2 linked regions of the Homo sapiens genome follow. The protein of the gene in region 2 purifies or fractionates together with the protein of the main gene of each other region. This does not show direct contact. Each region holds a gene or a part of one and is shown on either strand. Other genes may lie near its edges.

Evidence for each region.
Region 1: the proteins of SLC27A3 (region 2) and LIMD1 purify together in Homo sapiens (affinity purification with mass spectrometry; 3 studies listed by BioGRID and IntAct, with this or other methods). This does not show direct contact.

Annotation. Positions count from the first base shown.
Region 1 is NC_000003.12:45,597,043-45,605,205, reverse strand, and holds part of LIMD1 (LIM domain-containing protein 1), read right to left. Parts: intron 1-8,163. UniProt on the Homo sapiens protein: Adapter or scaffold protein which participates in the assembly of numerous protein complexes and is involved in several cellular processes such as cell fate determination, cytoskeletal organization, repression of gene transcription, cell-cell adhesion, cell differentiation, proliferation and migration.
Region 2 is NC_000001.11:153,770,735-153,779,569, reverse strand, and holds the start of SLC27A3 (long-chain fatty acid transport protein 3), read right to left. Parts: upstream 4,164-8,835; 5' UTR 4,073-4,163; coding exon 3,406-4,072; intron 3,053-3,405; coding exon 2,843-3,052; intron 2,509-2,842; coding exon 2,350-2,508; intron 1,810-2,349; coding exon 1,685-1,809; intron 1,410-1,684; coding exon 1,215-1,409; intron 1,108-1,214; coding exon 1,017-1,107; intron 884-1,016; coding exon 685-883; intron 457-684; coding exon 359-456; intron 228-358; coding exon 97-227; intron 1-96. Other genes in the region: INTS3 (integrator complex subunit 3), read right to left, coding at 6,300-6,377, 6,489-6,645, 6,859-6,931, 7,130-7,230, 7,607-7,774. UniProt on the Homo sapiens protein: Mainly functions as an acyl-CoA ligase catalyzing the ATP-dependent formation of fatty acyl-CoA using LCFA and very-long-chain fatty acids (VLCFA) as substrates.

The DNA of each region.
Region 1 (8,163 bases), on a different chromosome or scaffold from region 2:
CATCTAGTTATACCTAATGCCACTGTCACAGGACTTTGGGCCGGGAAGGACCCTGAGAGGTCATCTTGGCTCAATAGAGCTAGAGGGACTTGCCCAACATCACACCCTGAGCTGCTGGTGGTATCAGGCCCAGAAGACCTGGTTTCCTGACTCCCAAATATGTGTCTTTCTTGCACAGTTCTGTCTCCTATGTGACAGTCACAAATCAACAGATGTAAAGAAACATAACTTTTTAAGACCCCTGGCAAGAATGATCATGTCAAAATAACCGTTTCATGTTCTGGACTGTTAATGGAAAGAGCAGGAGGGCTGGATGGAAGAAACAAGACATTCTTTCCTGGTCACAAAAGAACAGAGCAGAAACATACCATACCAAGGAGGGAGGACTCCAGAGAGAAAGCATGACGGGACAGGCAGACGCTGTGGGAATCCATGTCGGGACGCGCCAGGGCTACAGCTCCCAGCAGATCAGCCTGCTTGGAAGGGATTGGTGGCATTGGCAGCACAGCACTGGCCAGAAGAACATCCGTTGGGAGCCACCAAGGCAAGGACCTCAACAGGCTCAGAGAAAACAAGGCTGGGATGACGGGGAAGAAGGAGCAAGGTGAGGCACAGGAGGGGTGGGCCAGAGCGAGGGTCTCCAAGGTCACAGTGAGAGGAGTGTGAATCCATCGCACTGGCTGTCCTTCCCCACAGCACTCAACCCAGTGCTGAGAACACAGTGTGACCTGACACGTATGCATCATTGACCTGCTGATTGAGCAAAAAGATGAACCTATCTAAATGAAGTTTGAGAGCTTCCTCACCTCTGCCCCTGGAAAACTCTGAAGAGAAGTGCTGTGGAGAGAGATGGCATGCAGGGACGGGGCTGAGGCACATGATGTAGTCACATCCCTTCAGAGAACACAGAGGACCGAGACGGTATCCAGTCCTTGACCACTGACCACACAGGAGTCACCGCTGTTACAGGGCGAGCTTCCAGCCCAGGAGGACATACAGTGGAGGTGGCCCTGGGCAGACGGCACCAACTCCTTGCTGTCTCCAGCCCAAGCTTCACCCAGGTCAGCCACACGATCTCCATTCATCCATCCCCAAACATGCCATAATGTGTTTTTACATTTTCCAAGTTTTTAAAAGTTACATCAAATCCCATGTTTGTTTAAAAGCCCATTTTTGCTATCAGAAATCAGACAGCTGATCCTTGGACACTTGGTGGTGACTGTACAGGGGCACAAGGAGCGTCCTGGGTGATGGTCATGTTCTGCCTTGATCTGGGTGTTGGCTACACAGATGGGTTCACTTTGTGAACATCTATGATATGTGTACATCGTACATCAATAAAAGGTTAAGAATACATGTCTTCCTGACTTAGGAAGATTGCCTGGTCCATTAAAAAAATGCATGGGCTGGGCACAGTGGCTCACGACTGTAATCCCAGCACTTTGGGAGGCTGAGGTGGGAGATCACTTGAAGCTGGGAGTTCAAAACCAGCCTAAGCAATATGGTGAGACTCTGCCTCAATTTTTTAAAAGAATGCACAGAGACTGCCCGATGTCTAAAGGATTGGGCATCCCCATATCCCTGGGTGTGCATCTGCAGGGCCAGAGAGATTGGAGTCTTGAATGTCACTGACAAATGTTACCAGCAGAGTCAGAAATTTACTTCCATGTCAATGGAAACCTGGATTCGGCTGGTTCAAATTATGGCACATCTCCAAAAGGCATTCTGGTGGCAGTCCCCACGTCATCATATCTAGTCATGCCAGTCACTCAGACAGAGGCACACAGCTGTTGAGCTTCTGTCACTTTCTTCCACTTCAGCAGTTGGTTTGGGTTTAATGAAATGCCTGATATGGGAGGAGGCTGGTTAGCCAGTGCCTCTGGGGAACACAGACAGACCTCTGTTCTGGAATTCTGGAGGGGCTGCTTTATTACAAGACTAGCCCATGTTGTTTCCTTTTATGTGAAAAATGCTCGATTTTTTAATCTAGGCTGGAATTAAGCACCATATTTCAAGCATCTATTGCTAATAAAGTCTGATAAACAGTAATTAAAAAGTCATGAAGGGCCAGGTGCAGTGGCTCACGCCTGTAATCCCAGCACTTTGGGAGGCCAAGGCGGGCAGATCACCTGAGGTCAGGAGCTCAAGACCAGCCTGGCCAACATGGCGAAACCCTGTCTCTACTGAAAATACAAAAATTAGCCGGGCATGGTGGTGCGCGCCTGTAATCCCAGCTATCCAGGAGGCTGAGGCAGGAGAATCGCTTGAACCCGGGGAGGCGGTGGCCGCAGTGAGCCAAGATCGCACCACTGCACTCCAGCCTGGGTGACGGAGTGAGCCTCCGTCTCAATTTAAAAAAAAAAAAAAAAAGTCATGAAAACGAGGAGCAGCTCAGTGTGCAACAGACTGTCAGATGGAAGGGCATCTGTAGTCATGTAGACATGCAGATAGGGCATCTGTAGTCATGCAAATAGGACATGTAGGTACATAGATAGGACATCCACATGTTCCTTGCTTGGACTGCTCGTTTAACCCTGTGCATTGCCAGGAAAGTAAAATCAAGTAAGACAGGCTCCCTGGCCCCGGTCAGGGCAGGGCCATTCTCAGGAGGAGTCACACCTGCTTTCAGGATCCCAGGCTAAGGGGGGTCTGTCACTGCAGTTTTCTGGGTTAGGATACTGCTGAAAGGACATCCACCAAAGACAGAAAAACCAAACACAATGCCAACCCTTCCTTTCTCCATGCTGGTGAGGAGCAGGCCTGTCCATCCACTTCCTGGGTACAGGAGACCCTGGAACCTGCTTATTCTTGCCTTTCCCACCCCTCTGGTCCTAACAGCGAGCAGAATGTGGCTCTCTCCTGGTTAGCTTTAGCCGTGACAGATCCCCAGGCCCACCCACAGCAGGGAGGGTGAGCACAGGGGCTTCAGGTCCAGGGGACACAAAAGTCCACAGCCCAGGCCGGGCGCAGTGGCTCACGCCTATAATCCCAGCACTTTGGGAGGCCAAGGAGGGTGGATCACAAGGTCAGGAGATCGAGACCATCCTGGCTAACACAGTGAAACCCCATCTCTACTAAAAACATATATATAAAAAATTAGCTGGGCGTGGTGGCGGGCGCCTGCAGTCCCAGCTACCCGGGAGGCTGAGGCAGGAGAATGGCTTGAACCTGGGAGGCGGAGCTTGCAGTGAGCCAAGATCGCGCCACTGCACTCCATCCTGGGCGACAGAGCGAGACTCTGTCTCAAAAAAAAAAAAAAAAAGTCCACAGCCTGAAATATGGGGGAAGAAGGCATGGAAAACGCAAGGAGCCCACAAAAGCTCCCTACAGTACGTGGGTGGAGAATGAATCTGGAGGGGCAATAGAAGGCATCCACTCAGACGTGAGAGACCACCTAGTCCCACCATGCAAGTGGTCAGAGCAGAAGCAAAATCCCGACTGGTATGGGAGCACCACTACTTGTACCCATATGGTCTTGAGCAAGTCACTTAACCTCTCTGGCCTCGGTTTCTCAACTGTAAACAGAGAATGGTGCCTACATCAAAACTAAGTGTGCAGGTTAAATGCCAACAAGGCCCACAAAGCACTGAACTCCAGTGCCCGGCACACCACTGGCACTTGACACACGGTAGCTACTACTAGAACCATAATGCCCAAGTCACCCGCTCCTACCTGCCCCCAGGAAGGGGGCACTGTGGGGATGCTGCAAAGGCCCTTCGATGAAGGCGAGGACAGGGGAGGGCACAGCTGCTGGGGTGCGGCAGGCAGGTTGCCCTCCTGTCAGCCCCTGAAGAGACTATCCCAGCTGCACAGAGCTGCCTCGCCCAAAGTCACCATCTTCCTGGGCAGCCCACAGCCAACAGCTGATCCATGAGGGAGTGTGAAGGCCAGGCCATGTCAGGCCAACTAGGATGACCCTAAAGGACTTTTCCAGCTCCCAGGCTCCCTGCGGGGTCAGGTCCCAGCAGCTCAGCTCTCCTCTACCCACTCCTGATTCCTTCTCCATCTTCCACAGGTGGGGACCCCAAAAGCACCTTTTAATAAGCCCTTGTATGGTCAACTCTGTCTCAGTCAGCTTCCCAGGAAACCCAGCCTATGACAAGTGGTTTATTTGTGGGGTTTTTTGTTTTTGTTTTTGTTTTGAGACAGGGTCTCCCTCTGTCACCCAGGCTGGAGTGCAGTGGCATGATCATATCTCACTGCAGCCTCAGCCTCCTGGGCTCAAGCAATCTTCCCACCTCAGCCTCCCAAGTAGCTGGGACTACAGGTGTGCACCACCATGCCTGGCTAATTTTTGTGTTTTTTGTAGAGATGGGGTCTCACTATGTTGCCCAGGCTGGTCTTAAACTCCTGGGCTCAAGCAATTCTCCTGCCTCAGTCTCTTGAGTCGCTGGGATCACAGGTGTGAGCCACCACACCCGGCTTGTGTCCTTTTTCCTTAGAAAGGGAGAAGAGGACCAGTGTGAGGAAGATAGGTGGATCACATGGAGGAGACGGTGGGGCACAACTAACAAAGGCACGGTGCCCTCTGCACCCCACCTCTGCAGTGTCAGCAGTGGTGCTAAAACAGAAGCCACACTGCACTAGGTGGTGTAGGCCAGGAGCAACGCCTAGAAGACCAAAAACCCAACAACATGGACAGAGAGACACAAAGAGGCAACGGGGACAGGGGGTGGGGAGGATGGCTGGAGGAGGAAGTAGGCCCAGCAGAGTAGGGAAAGAGACACGCCTCTGTAGGATCCTATTTTACTAAACCCACAAAGACCAGCCATGGAAAGTGCCAGGAGAGTTCCCGTGCCAAGTTAATCAGTAACTGGAAACTGGGCATCTTGAGACTCTAAGGGCTTACAAAGGTGGCAACAGGGATTCACAAGCTCTTCCCACAAAGTCAAATGCCCAAAGGGACACCTTCAGTTCAACCTAGGAAGGGGCCCAAGCTAACCCAAACATCTACTTTGCTTTGCTTTTGGCCTGAGTGACATCACCTCTCATGGGGAGTTGTGTCACTCTGACTCTCACTGCCAAGCGCCCTGCACCATTAAACATTCTTCTGTTTGGAAGTAGAATCTAACCATTATTTAACAAATGTAGCGTGTTGGGTAGACAAAATCTTTCAAGTAATACCAGATGTAGGGGAGGAAAAAGTATCTGTGGGAGGGAGCCCCTCAGCTGTCCAGCCTCCTCAGGCTACCGACAAGGGAGGAGTGGTCTGGAGGAGCATGTGGTCTCTTCATGGTCCCCACACAGGGCCAGGCAATGACTGCCAATCTTCAGACCGAAAGACTTCCTCCTCTGCCCCAAGGTAGGTCGCAGAAGAGCAGATGGAAGCTCTGCCACCAAAGCAGGTGTGGAGCAAACCCTCTCCTACATAGCTGGCAGCTCAGCCCTGGCATGAGCTCTGCAGGAAGCAACCAAGCCACACCTAAAGGACACAAACCACGCAGCCCCACAGTCCCACTCCTGGGAGCTCATCTTGCAGCTACGCCTGCCCCTTGTAGGTGGGTACATTCCAAAGGCCCATCAGTGAGGGCTGCTTAGGTGACCTTAGGTGACCTAGGCACATTGCACAGCAGCCACGTATAGCCAGCTGAACACATGCTGATGTAGAGCCACTGCCAAGACGCTGTGCAGTGGAACAGCATGCCACCACTGGGGCTGGCAGAAACACACACATGCTTATTACACCCAGAACACTTGACTAGACAGACCAGGGAAAGAGGCTCGATTTTCACTGTGCGTGCTTGCTTATCTGTGAAGTTTATACAAAAAATGAATAAAATACACGATTCCGTTTCTAAATGAAATTCCAGAATAGGTAAATGCCATAGGGACAGAATGCACATTGGTTGTTGCCAGGAGCTGGGAGGGGATGGGGGAAACAGGGAGCAATTGCTTTATGGGTATGGGGTTTCCTTTTGGGTTGACGAAAACATTTTGGAACTGGACGGAGGTGTTCATTGTACAACGTTGTGAATGTATTAATATTAAACACCACTGAATTGTTCACTTCAAAATGGTTAATTTTACATTATGTGAATTTCATCTCAATTAAAAAAAAACCATAAAAATAAATAAATAAAATAGGCTTCCAAATCTCTGCTTGGGAGACTGTTTGGCAATGCTGGTTAGACACATGGGCCCTGAGGCTGAACTGAACTGTCAGGTTCAAGTCCCAGCAGTACCCAATATGACCTGTGACACCGCCAGTAAGTAATTTAATCTCCCTGAGCTTCCGTTTTCTCATCAGTAAAATGGGCATAATGGCAGAACCAGCTTCCAAGGATGCTGTGACCAGTCAATTCAATAGTCAGCATCAAGTGTTCAGTACAGTGCCCAGCACAGACCAGGCCTACAGGGACTCTGTGCTTGCTGTCTGCTCTGCCAAGAACACCATTTCCCTGGGAAAACACATGGTCCAGTCTCCTGCCTGCCTTTGCTCAAATGCATCTTCTAGGTGGGACATTCCCTGATCACCCAATTTAAAACTGGAAATCTCTCTGCCACCCCCAGCCCCAGGGCTCCATTCCCTTTCTCTACCTTGATTCTCTCCCTAGTACTTGCTTATTTACTTCATTCACTCCCTGCCTCCTTCTACTACATTGTCTGCTCCAGGGAGGCAGAGGTTCCTGTCTGTCCTGTTCACTATGTATCCCCAAGACCTGGAATAGAGCATGGCCTCAAGATAGGTGCTCAATAAATTTTAATATATGCTGAATGGATGAGTAGCGTCAGCTAATACCGTTGCTCTGATGCACAGCATAAACTTGCATCTCAAGATAAAACTGCTGTTTGTGTTGTCCAATGAGCTTGAAATTTACAACTAAACAAAAGTTTAAATTAAAAGACCCACAGTATTTCCAGCTAACTATTACTCCCAAATGTGGGAATGTGCTGAGGAGAAAAGATAGTTCACAGTAAGATGGTGCCATGTGCTTTAAAAAATAAACCAGTAGGCCGGGCACAGTGGCTCACACCTGTAATCCCAGCACTTTGGGAGGCTGAGGCAGGAAGATCACTTGAGCCCAGAAGAACAGCCTGGGCAACCTAGAGAGGACCCCCCACCTCCACGTCCCCTTCCTCCCCTGCTTCCTCTTAAGTAGTCCTAGCTACTCAGGAGGCTGAGGTAGGAAGATGCCTTGAGTCCGGGAGGTCTAGGGTGCACTGCACTCCAGCCTGGGCAACAAGGCAAGACCTTGTCTCAAAATAAATAAATAAATAAACAAATAAATAAATAAAAATAAATTTAAAAAAAGTAAGCCATAAACAGCTACCCTGACCTCAGCCTGCTGAGTATGGGGTGAGAACTGGCTCCCACAAGGTTCTCATGAGAAGCAAAACACAATGCTACCATAAGCTGCACACATCCAGCAGCCCAGTGCCTCAGACCCTGGTCCCTCAAAGGACCTTGGGACACTTGCTCGTTCACGGAGAATAAGCGTAGACTGACAGCAGTAAGCCAGCTGTCTTCCTCTCCCAGGGCCTTCCCTGTCCCTGCCCTCCACTAGGCAGAGCTGCTACCCCAGCAGGACTCAGGCTATGGGGAACACGGGGGTCAATTATCCAAAGTTAAAAACTGAAAAAGAAAAACCCCTCCGATTCTCTGCGAATAGGCTGTCTTTCTAGTTAGCTCTCTTATGAGACAACTAATCATTACTCAACAGAAAGATACAACTACCACTAAACCTCGTGCAAAGAAAAAAAGTTGAAGCTAGCAGTCTCCAAGAGTTTGTGGTTTTAAAAAAGAGAATAAAACAAAACATGCAAGTTTGAGTAAAACCAGGAAGACACATTTTCCATCATAGTTTGTGCCACGGCTGTGGTGCAACCTGGCTGTTGGCTGTTACCTGGGTGTAGGCTGGGTTAGGAGGCACATGGTGCGGCAGGGCTCAAATCTCACCACACAGCAGGATCACGGCTGGCTGGGTCCCATCCCACAGTTTCTGATTCAGTAGGTCTTGGGTGGGGCCCAAGAATTTCCATTTCTAATCAGTTTCCAGGCAAAGGGATGCTGCTGATCCAGGGACTACACTTAAGAACCACTGCTCTGGCCAGGCGCGGTGGCTCACGCCTGTAATCCCAGCACTTTGGGAGGCCAAGGCGGGCGGATCACGAGGTCAGGAGATTGAGAACATCCTGGCTAGCGCAGTGAAACCCTGTCTCTAC
Region 2 (8,835 bases):
TTTGGGAGCCATCAAACTCCTAAGTTGATACACGGGGTGGATATGTGGGGTGAGGATATATGGGGTGAGGGGCCGGCGGGGGAAGTGGCCGGTTACCTGGAGCCTGAGGAATCGGGGCCGGGCATAAGGTGGCAAGTTCTCAGACACGTGGGTGTAGAGCTGCATAAGGTCCAAAGCGTGGGGGGGACGCAGAACTAGGGCTGCCATTCCAGCCCTGCCTTCATGCCCTGGTGGGTGTGGGAGACAGAGTAAGCCCCTCCATGGCTGACCACCACGAAGGCCTCGTGCTCCCTGCGCCCAAGTACTACCAATTCGGGGTGGTGGCTGGGTGCCTCCCCCACCTTCCATGCCTAGGCACCTGGCACAGTGACTCCATAGACGTTCACCTCCTGAAGAAAATCTAGGGCCTCGAAGACCTCTGCCACCTCGGTTGTGGCCACATTCTCCCCCTTCCACCTGTCAGAGAGCAGAGATCTGAAACTGGGAGTCAGGGGTCAGGGCCTTATGGGCTTGGTGGGGAGATGAGGTCAGAGGTCAGTGTCACAGGGATGAAATGGTGAGATCTGAGAATGAGAGATTAGCTTAGGACCCAGGTTGAGGTGGCAGATTAGAGAGTTGAGGTTCAGAAGCTTTGGATCACAGAGATCAGATGTCCAGGATGAAAAACCAGTTATGGACAGATACCTGAAGGTGTCTCCAGTACGATCATGGAAGCGGAGAAAACCTTGGTCATCGCAGACCAGCAGGTCCCCAGTGTTGAAGAAAACATCCCCAGGCCGGAAGACATCCTTTAGCAACTTCCCCTGGGCCAGCTCTGGCCCGCCAGCATAGCCCAGGAATGGGGACTGCTGGCTTACCGGGGCCACCAGCAGCCCTGGCTCACCTGGCAGAGTCACCAGGGTCAGGAGTGGTGTCACCTTTCCCAGAGCCTTCTGCCCCCATCCACCCCAGTCTCCAATTCCAGTCCTCCTGTGCCAGCTTCAGCACCCCGCCCACCCCACCAGAACACCACCAACCTGGAGATGTGGCCATACAGTGCCCCTGGGGGTCCCGAATTGGCTCTCCTGTGGTGACATCATAGCGAATCAAGGAGAAGGGGAAGATATGCTGGGGAAAGGGAGACCTGGGTACTGGATCATTGCAGTCACATGAGCCCCCTCTCCTGCCAGCCCTCTGCTGTTCCACGGGTTTTCAGTTTCCTCTCTGCCCCTCACCTTGTAAAGCCAGGAAGCACGCCCCACAGCGCCCCGCTGTCCTGTGTAGTTGATGGTGGCCACGTTGCCCTCTGTCAGTCCATATGTCTCCAGCACCTGCAGGGGCCCGAAGCGCCGCACAAAACGCTCCCAGGTATCTGGGCGCAGCCCGCTGCCCACTGCCAGCCGGACCTTATGGCCACGTTCTGCCTTGCTCTGAGATGAGTGGGAGAGGGGCCGGAGCTTCAGCATCAAGATGCCCGCTCCCGGAAGTGAATTCCTGTTCCCCATTCCCCAGAACCCCCTCCTACTGTGACCTCCTTCAGAGGCCGTAAGCATCAGATGGCCTAGGCCATCTCTGGCTCCTTATCTTACACTGCCATTTTCTTCTTGCTGCTTCTCCCTCCAACTCCCTGTCTCCTGTCAACTGTCCTGCTCCCCGTGAGCTAGCCCTGTGTCAGCAGCTCTGCCCAGGATCTGTGCCCACGCACCGGGGGCTGGTTGACAAGGTATCGGCACAGCTCCCCAATGTACTGGAACACCGTCACCCTGTGCTGCTGGCAATCTTCCCAGAACTGACCAGCCGAGAACTTGGATTTCAGCACCACTGTGGCCCCTGCCAGAAGTGGGCAGGGGGGAAGAAGGGAGGTAAGATTAGGAGCAGAGTGGGGAGCCCAAGCCCCTCTTTCCAGACCCCAGCCATCACTGTAGTCTTTCCCTGGGAAGGGCCCACTGTGGGAGTCACACCGTCAGGAAGCCGTGCTGGCCCTCTTTCCCCTCCCCCGGCCCCTGTCCCCAGCCTTAGAAGAGGTGAATGCCCTTTCCCTACTTCCCAGCCCCAAAGATCTCATCCTCCACACTCTCACTTCCTTGTCTCTCTCTCCCTCTTCTCTTACTTGCCTGTTCCTGGACTGACACAGTCCTTCCCTGCCTTTGACCCTGCAGCCTGGAGTTATGTGGCTGTATGGCCCCCCTCACCGTTCCTCAGTCTGTAGGTCTAGGCAGGTGACATTGCCCTATTGTACAGAGCTCCTGGTGAGTAGGGCTCTGCCCCATCCGTCCTCTAGATTATCTACCCTGGAGGACTCACACCATAGTACGTGCTTAATAAATGTCTACTGGATGAATTAATGAAGGTGGGGTTGGGGAGACTGACCAATGCCCATGCAGCCCACGATGCCCAGCAGGGAACCGGACATGTGGTAGAGTGGGAGGGCGAGGTAGATCACATCTTCCTGGTGGACACCACACAGCTGATAGAAGCCCTGGCATTGCAGGATCTTCAGATGACTGATCCGAGCAGCCTTGGGGAGGCCTGTGGGGTGGCAGTTATGGGACGATCAGGGGAAGGGCAAACTCCAAGCTCTACCTATCTGTTTGCACCCCCGCTGGGTTTCCCACAGAAAGAGGCGGAGGCAGGACAGAAGCTGAGGACCGAGACCAGGCTGTCCTGGAAATATGGGTGGTCTGGGGGAGGTGGAGAAATGAGTAGGAGGTGAGGAGACTGGGGAGTGAAATGATGGGGAGAAAAAGGATGTGCCAATGAAATCAGCATCCTCTCTGGGGGCTTTGAAGGAGTGGTCTGGGAGCAGACCCCTGCCTTCCTCTGCCTTGGTTTCGGGGAGCTAAGTATGGTGCCCGGCCCTCACCCGTGGTGCCAGAGGTGAAGATGTACAGGCACGTGTCTGTTATGCTCTGGGGGGAAGAGAGGTATCCTGGCACTGGCCCATCCACTTCAGCGGACACTTCAGCCAGCAAATCGCTAATTCCAGCAGGGTGGGTTCCTGGGCCTGCAGCCCACAGGTGGAGCCCCATGGCTCTCAGGGCGGGCAGGTCCGGCTCCAGGGACTCCAGAAACTCTAGAAGGGTGGGAAAGCACAACGCCGGGGCCCTGGCTCTACCTAGAAGAGCCTATGACCCATGTCCCCTCCCTATCCCAGCCCACACTGCTCTTGGATGAGGGTGAAGGGTATGGACATTCCATCTTGGGTCTGAGGCCTGGAACTCGACTCCTTGGGGATCCTTGGGGCACCAAAGATTCAGCCTCATCCCTTCTCAAACCCGGAGACTCCTATCTCCACCCACTTTCGAACCCCAAGGGATAGTCGGCTTCTTCCCAGGCCCAGGGATGAGACCAAGCCTTTCTGTGGTCTCCGACACGCCCCCTTCTGTGGCTGGCCCCGCCTTAGTCAGTTCGGAGCTCCAGCCTTACCTGGCGCCAGCACCAGCGCGCGCGCGCCGCAGCTGCGGAGGCAGTGCAGCAGGGGGCCCCGGCGCAGGGCGGTGGGCACAAAGGCAGTGCGCAGGCCGGCCTTGGCCAGCCCGAACCAGAGCCACAGAAACTCTGGGCCAGCGGGGAGGAGCAGCGCCACAGTTGCTCCAGGTGACAGAGGGGCGGCGGCTCCTCCACCTCTGGCGGCACCGTCCCCTCCGGCAAACTCCGCGCCGCTTCCGGCCGCTGCATCTCCGGCTCCCGGCGCTGCCCGCTCGCCTTCTCCAGCGCTCCCCTCGCCGCTGTCGCCGCCGTCGGGTCCCCAGTCCCAGCCTAGCGCACGTAGGAAGGCGCGTGCAGCCCTGTTACTCTCGCGCTCCGCCTCTGAGTAGCTAAAGCGCCGCGAGCCGTGAATGAGAAAGGTGTGCGCGGCGCGCTGCTGGGCCAGTTCCGCGAGGCGCCAGGCCAGGCTGCAGCCCCCCTCGGGACCTTCCGGGTCGGCGGCAGCCGCGGCCAGGGCGCGAGCTCGAAGAGCCCTTTTGCAGCACAGAGCTCGCACCGCAAAGGCCAAGTCCGCCGGAAGCCAGCGCAACTGCGGCCAGAGGTGTAGCTTCAGCAGCAGCAGCGGTAGCAACAGCAGCAGGGGCAGCAGCAGGAGGGCAGCCATGGAGCCCGCTTCCTCTATCGGCACCGTCTGGTTCCAGCCGCTCGCAAACATCCCTGATCCTCCCTTCCGAAAACCTAGGGCCGCTCGTTCTAGCTGAGACTTCTCCTTCCAGGGAGCGCGCGTGCGCTGGCACACGCCCATTCCCACCCAGGCCCCCACCACTCCACACGGGCGGAGAGCAGAAACCCGGGAGGAGTGCGGGTGTGGGGCGGCCCCGGACTCCCAGCCCTCCCCCCACAGCCTACGCTCCGCCCTAGGCGCGCTCCCTCCCGGACTGCTCGCGGCTCGCACCCTACCAGGTCCTGGGCGGTGCTCGCGCCTTCCCTGAATCCCAGGGTTATGTCTGTCTTCTAAGTTGTTTCTCGGCTTGGGCGGTTTAGGCATCTGGCTAAGCCCTAGAGTCCAGGCCTGAGAGCCAGGGCGTTTGGATCGCAGTCCATCTTCCCCTCAATATTTCTCGTTTTCCCGTTAAGGGAAGGTACCATTGCTCTCTCCCAAAAGAATGAACTTGGCCCCTGGCCCATTTGGTTCTGCAAGTCCCGGCCTGCCAGCCGCAACCCCAGGGGATGGGTGGGGGCTGAGAGTTAAATAGGGGAAAGGTGGAAACCCAGACTGCCAGATTTCTGAGGGGTCACGACAGAGGCCCCTCCCTTTGGGCAAGGGTACAATAATTGGGGCCAGCCAGCAAATGCTCTCCATCCTGGTTTTAATTGGGACAGAGGAAACTGGGGAAGGAGAGAGGAAGGAAAAAGAAGCCTCCAGTGGTTTAGACTTTCAAAGGAAGCAACAGCAGTGATGAGGGAGGGGAGAACCTGGATTCTGTAAAAAGACAAATTTTCGGGGTGAAGAGGAGCAGCTCTGTGCAGTTCGCCCAAACTTCACTCCTCAGTCCACCTCCATTCTCCCTGGACAGCGGGGGAACAACAGCATAGCCAAGGAACTCTCCTCTGCTGGTTCACATGGCCCAGCAAGTGGCCACACTGTGGAAGGAAGAGCATCTCTGTCCCTCCCTGGTATCCAGACTTTATCTCCAGGTACAGTTGTCCCTGGAGACCAAGCTGGAGCATCCCTCCCGTCAAGCAGCGAGTCCTCCGGCCATTCTTGGTAGGCACACAGACTTCAACTGGAGGATGACAGACCTTTTGGAAGCATCTTGTTTCTTGAGAAATGAGTAAGGACAGGCCTCATCCTACGGGGGATGGTTCTGCATAGACAGATCAGTGCCTGGCTCCCACCTCCAGTGGCAGCAGGAAGGATGGGTAGTGGCCAAAGCCAAGTCCCTTCTGCTCTAGACAAAAGTGGGGGCAGAACAGGAAGGGAAAGGGGGATGTTCTGCGGTTACAAGTAGGGGTGCCAATCAAATCAAGACCAAGCTATACATGCACGGGGCAAATGCCAGCAGACACTCCAGCACAAAAGACATTCTGGCTTGTTTTATTGTCATTTAAAAACAACTTTTAAGACACGATTATCTCTGCCAAAAAAAAAACAAAAAAAAACAAAAAAAAAAACAGACTCAAGGAAATGGGATCATTTGACAATTCTGTGAAACTTGCCTCTGGGACTCCCTGGGCTCTGGTGTAGATTGAGGTGCCAACCTCAGACCAACCTAAGCCTCCAGGGCACACCACGTGGGGCTGTGGCCACCCTTTCAGACTCCTTTCTGAATGCTTGTGGCATCTGCCCCATGATTAGGAATGGACACCCTGACCACGTCATAGATGCCCATTTCACACTGGCATGTGGATAGTGACTATAAAACGTCCCTTCAGAACAAACCAAGACCTGAAGGGGAAGCAGGAAGGGACACCCACACACTGAGTCTCTGCTCTCATCCTAGCTTATCTGGCCAGCTGCCCCTTTGTCATTTCCCTTCTCTGTTGAAATGGCTCTTTGGGAGACTGGGGGAGGAGATTGCGGAAGGGGCCAGGGGGCTGAGGACTTCCACTATGGTCTGATTTTACAGAGCCTCTGGCTTCAGTCAGATCCCAAATATCACTGGGAACAGCAGTGTGAGGGGCTGGAGGCCCCAGGAGGAGGGAAGGGGCTAGGGGCTGCATGGCAGCTTCTCAAACTCAGCCAGAGGAGAAAGCTCCTCCTTCCACCGGGGGAGCTTGGGGATGCAGCAAGGGTGTTTCCCCTGCAATCTCCTCAGCCTCTATTAACCTTTGAATCACCAAGAAGGAGAGGGCAGTCCAGCCGGGGGTGGGATGGGGAATGCAGGGCCTCAGTCACTGTCAGAGCCCACTGCAGAGGACCCTTTTCGTTTCCGCTTGGTAGGCTTCGGTTTCGTGTCTTCCTCTTCCTGGAAGAGATGGGAGGGGAAATGGGAAGTTAACAGCCTGGGCAGCTGCTGGCGCCGACTCCACCTGCACCCAGTGCTCCTTTTCCCCCTGTGCACTGGCTGGGTTCTCACTGAAGCACTGCTGGAGCCCGACTCTTCTTCGGCATTGGGGGGCTGTGTGGCATTCTTTCGACTTCGAGGGCTGGACAGAGCTGCTTTTCGCCGGCTCTTGGGTGGCTTGGTGGAAGAGTCCTCATATTCCTCCGCCAGGGAGAAGAGATCACTGAATCTAAGGAAAAGGAGCGGTAGCTCTTTGAGTGGGAGCCTGCTGCTCCTACGGCACCTCCCATCCTCTTCTCTGCCCCCAGGCCTAGGCCTTCTTTTTCTTCAACCCTGGACCCTAAGGTCTTGCTGGCCATTACGTTTATGTCCCTAGCAGGCTTCCTCTCCCTTAGGCTTTTCCCCTACTACTTTCCAAGGCCCAAAGTGGCAGGAGCCTCACTTCATCTTGTGGGCTTCGTCACAGCTCGCTTGGACATGCTGCAGCGCCTGGAGAATTGGCGTCTGGCTAAAAACTAGAGGAAGAAAAGGGAGAGCAGGGAAGGAAAAACAATCAGATGTCTGGGAGCTTATTAAACAGCACGCACAGGTTGTTTTATCCCGAGTGTGGGTTGTGGCCCCGGGTGTCCTGCCCCTGCCCCCAGCCTGGCTCCAGGCATAGTCTGGGCCAGGGCAGCACCGTCTACACTGGACGCCGAGGGTGGAAGGCATACAGTTCTGCTTGGTGTTGGTCAGGTTGAGCCGCAGATTGTCCAAGTGCTCCAGGATCTGCTCCAGAGTCAGCTGGGCCAGCTTGCTGCTAGAGCTCCTCAGGCTGTGCAGGAATCACCAGAGCCAGAGTCTGAGTGTGGGAGGGTTCCAGAGTGCGAGACACCCTCCACCCGCCAGGGCCCCCTTAAGACAGAGGCAGCCTACATGGGGAACAGGATAGGCAGCCTGGGAGGGCTGGGGTTGGGTGAGAAAGGTGTGCCTAGAACAGGGGATCCTGGCCACAGGGGCACTGGAAGATGGGGAGAAAGGGCCACGGTGGTCTCGCATGCCATGTGGCTTCGGACCACTAGATGTCGCCCACAAACCAGGCTGGGACAGCACTGACCCCCATCACCACCACCACCACCACCACCACCACCACCGACAGCAATCACTGCAGACCGCCATGGCCTGGAGGGTAGACAGGGACCGTGTCCCACCTCTGTCTCTTGCGAGGCAGGCTGTTGTTCTTGATGAGCAGGGACTTGATGTGCTCGGCCAGCAGCTCGTCATGTTTCATGCACCAGTGCCGCAGGATGCTGGTGGTGAACTGGTCGTCAGGATGGCAGGGCCGGCTCAGCACCATCTTCACCATCTCCTCGCTGGGCCTGGGGGAGGAAGGGGGCACTGGGTGCTGCTTGCACAGTGGCCGCAGGGCATGCTGGGTCTCTCCCACTTATTTCCCAAGCCCTGGCCTCCCCACCCACCCACTACTCTCACATCCCTCTCCCTCTTCTCCTTAGGCCAAGGAATGCCTGGTTTCATCCTCTGTGGAAGCCAGGAGAGAAGAAGTGAGATTCTTCACTTGCTGTGGTAGGAGAAGGCGTGTGCGTGTGTGTGTTGGGAAGGAGGACCCTCAGTTCTCCTCCTCCTCCCCTAGAACAGTCAGGGAGTGGGCCTGGGAGGCAGAAGCACAAGCATGTGGCATGCAGATGCTCCCCTACCCCTACCCTGCTAAAGCTGTGGGCCAACCTGGCTTCCAGCTGGAGGAAGGGGGCAGGAGAGGGTTGTGAAGTCACAGCCCCATACAGCCTCCAAGCTTCCCACTTCCTCTAGGACACTCTGTACCATTTATAGTCTCTCAGGCAAGAGAGCAGAAAGGGTGGAAGGAAGGCAGAAAGGTAGGAAGGATAAGATACACAGCTGCTGCCCCATTTATCGGGGGATGTTGCTAAAGGGCTTTGCGGGAAGAGGGGGCTGCCACCCTCTCCCTCTCTGCCCCACCCTGTCAAGGCACAGTAGGTCCAGCTGGCTCTGCTCTGCACAGGGTGAGGGAGAGGATGGTGCGTGACCCCTCTACCCTGACCCTCCCTCCTCTTGGATTAGCTGTGCGGTGGCCAGCAGGAGCATGGGGCGGTGGGGGGGGCGCGGCGGGGAGCAGGAGCCACCAGGGATTAGAACTGCTGTGGCAGCAGGAAACAGGGATGTCCGGTCCCCACCTCCCCACCTCCGAGGGCAGCTCCTGGTGGGCAGGGGGGTAAAGTCGAGAGGAAGCCCAGATCCCAGGGGAGCTGCTCATTTGTAAGTCACGTTGGGGGAAGGGCAGAATAAGCAGATGTTAACGACAGGAAAAAATATGGCAATAAGGAGGAGGACAGAAGCCCTTTAGACCACAGCAGCTCTTGGGATGTTAAAATTGAGGGCTAAAGAGCCCCAGAAGTGGAACTCA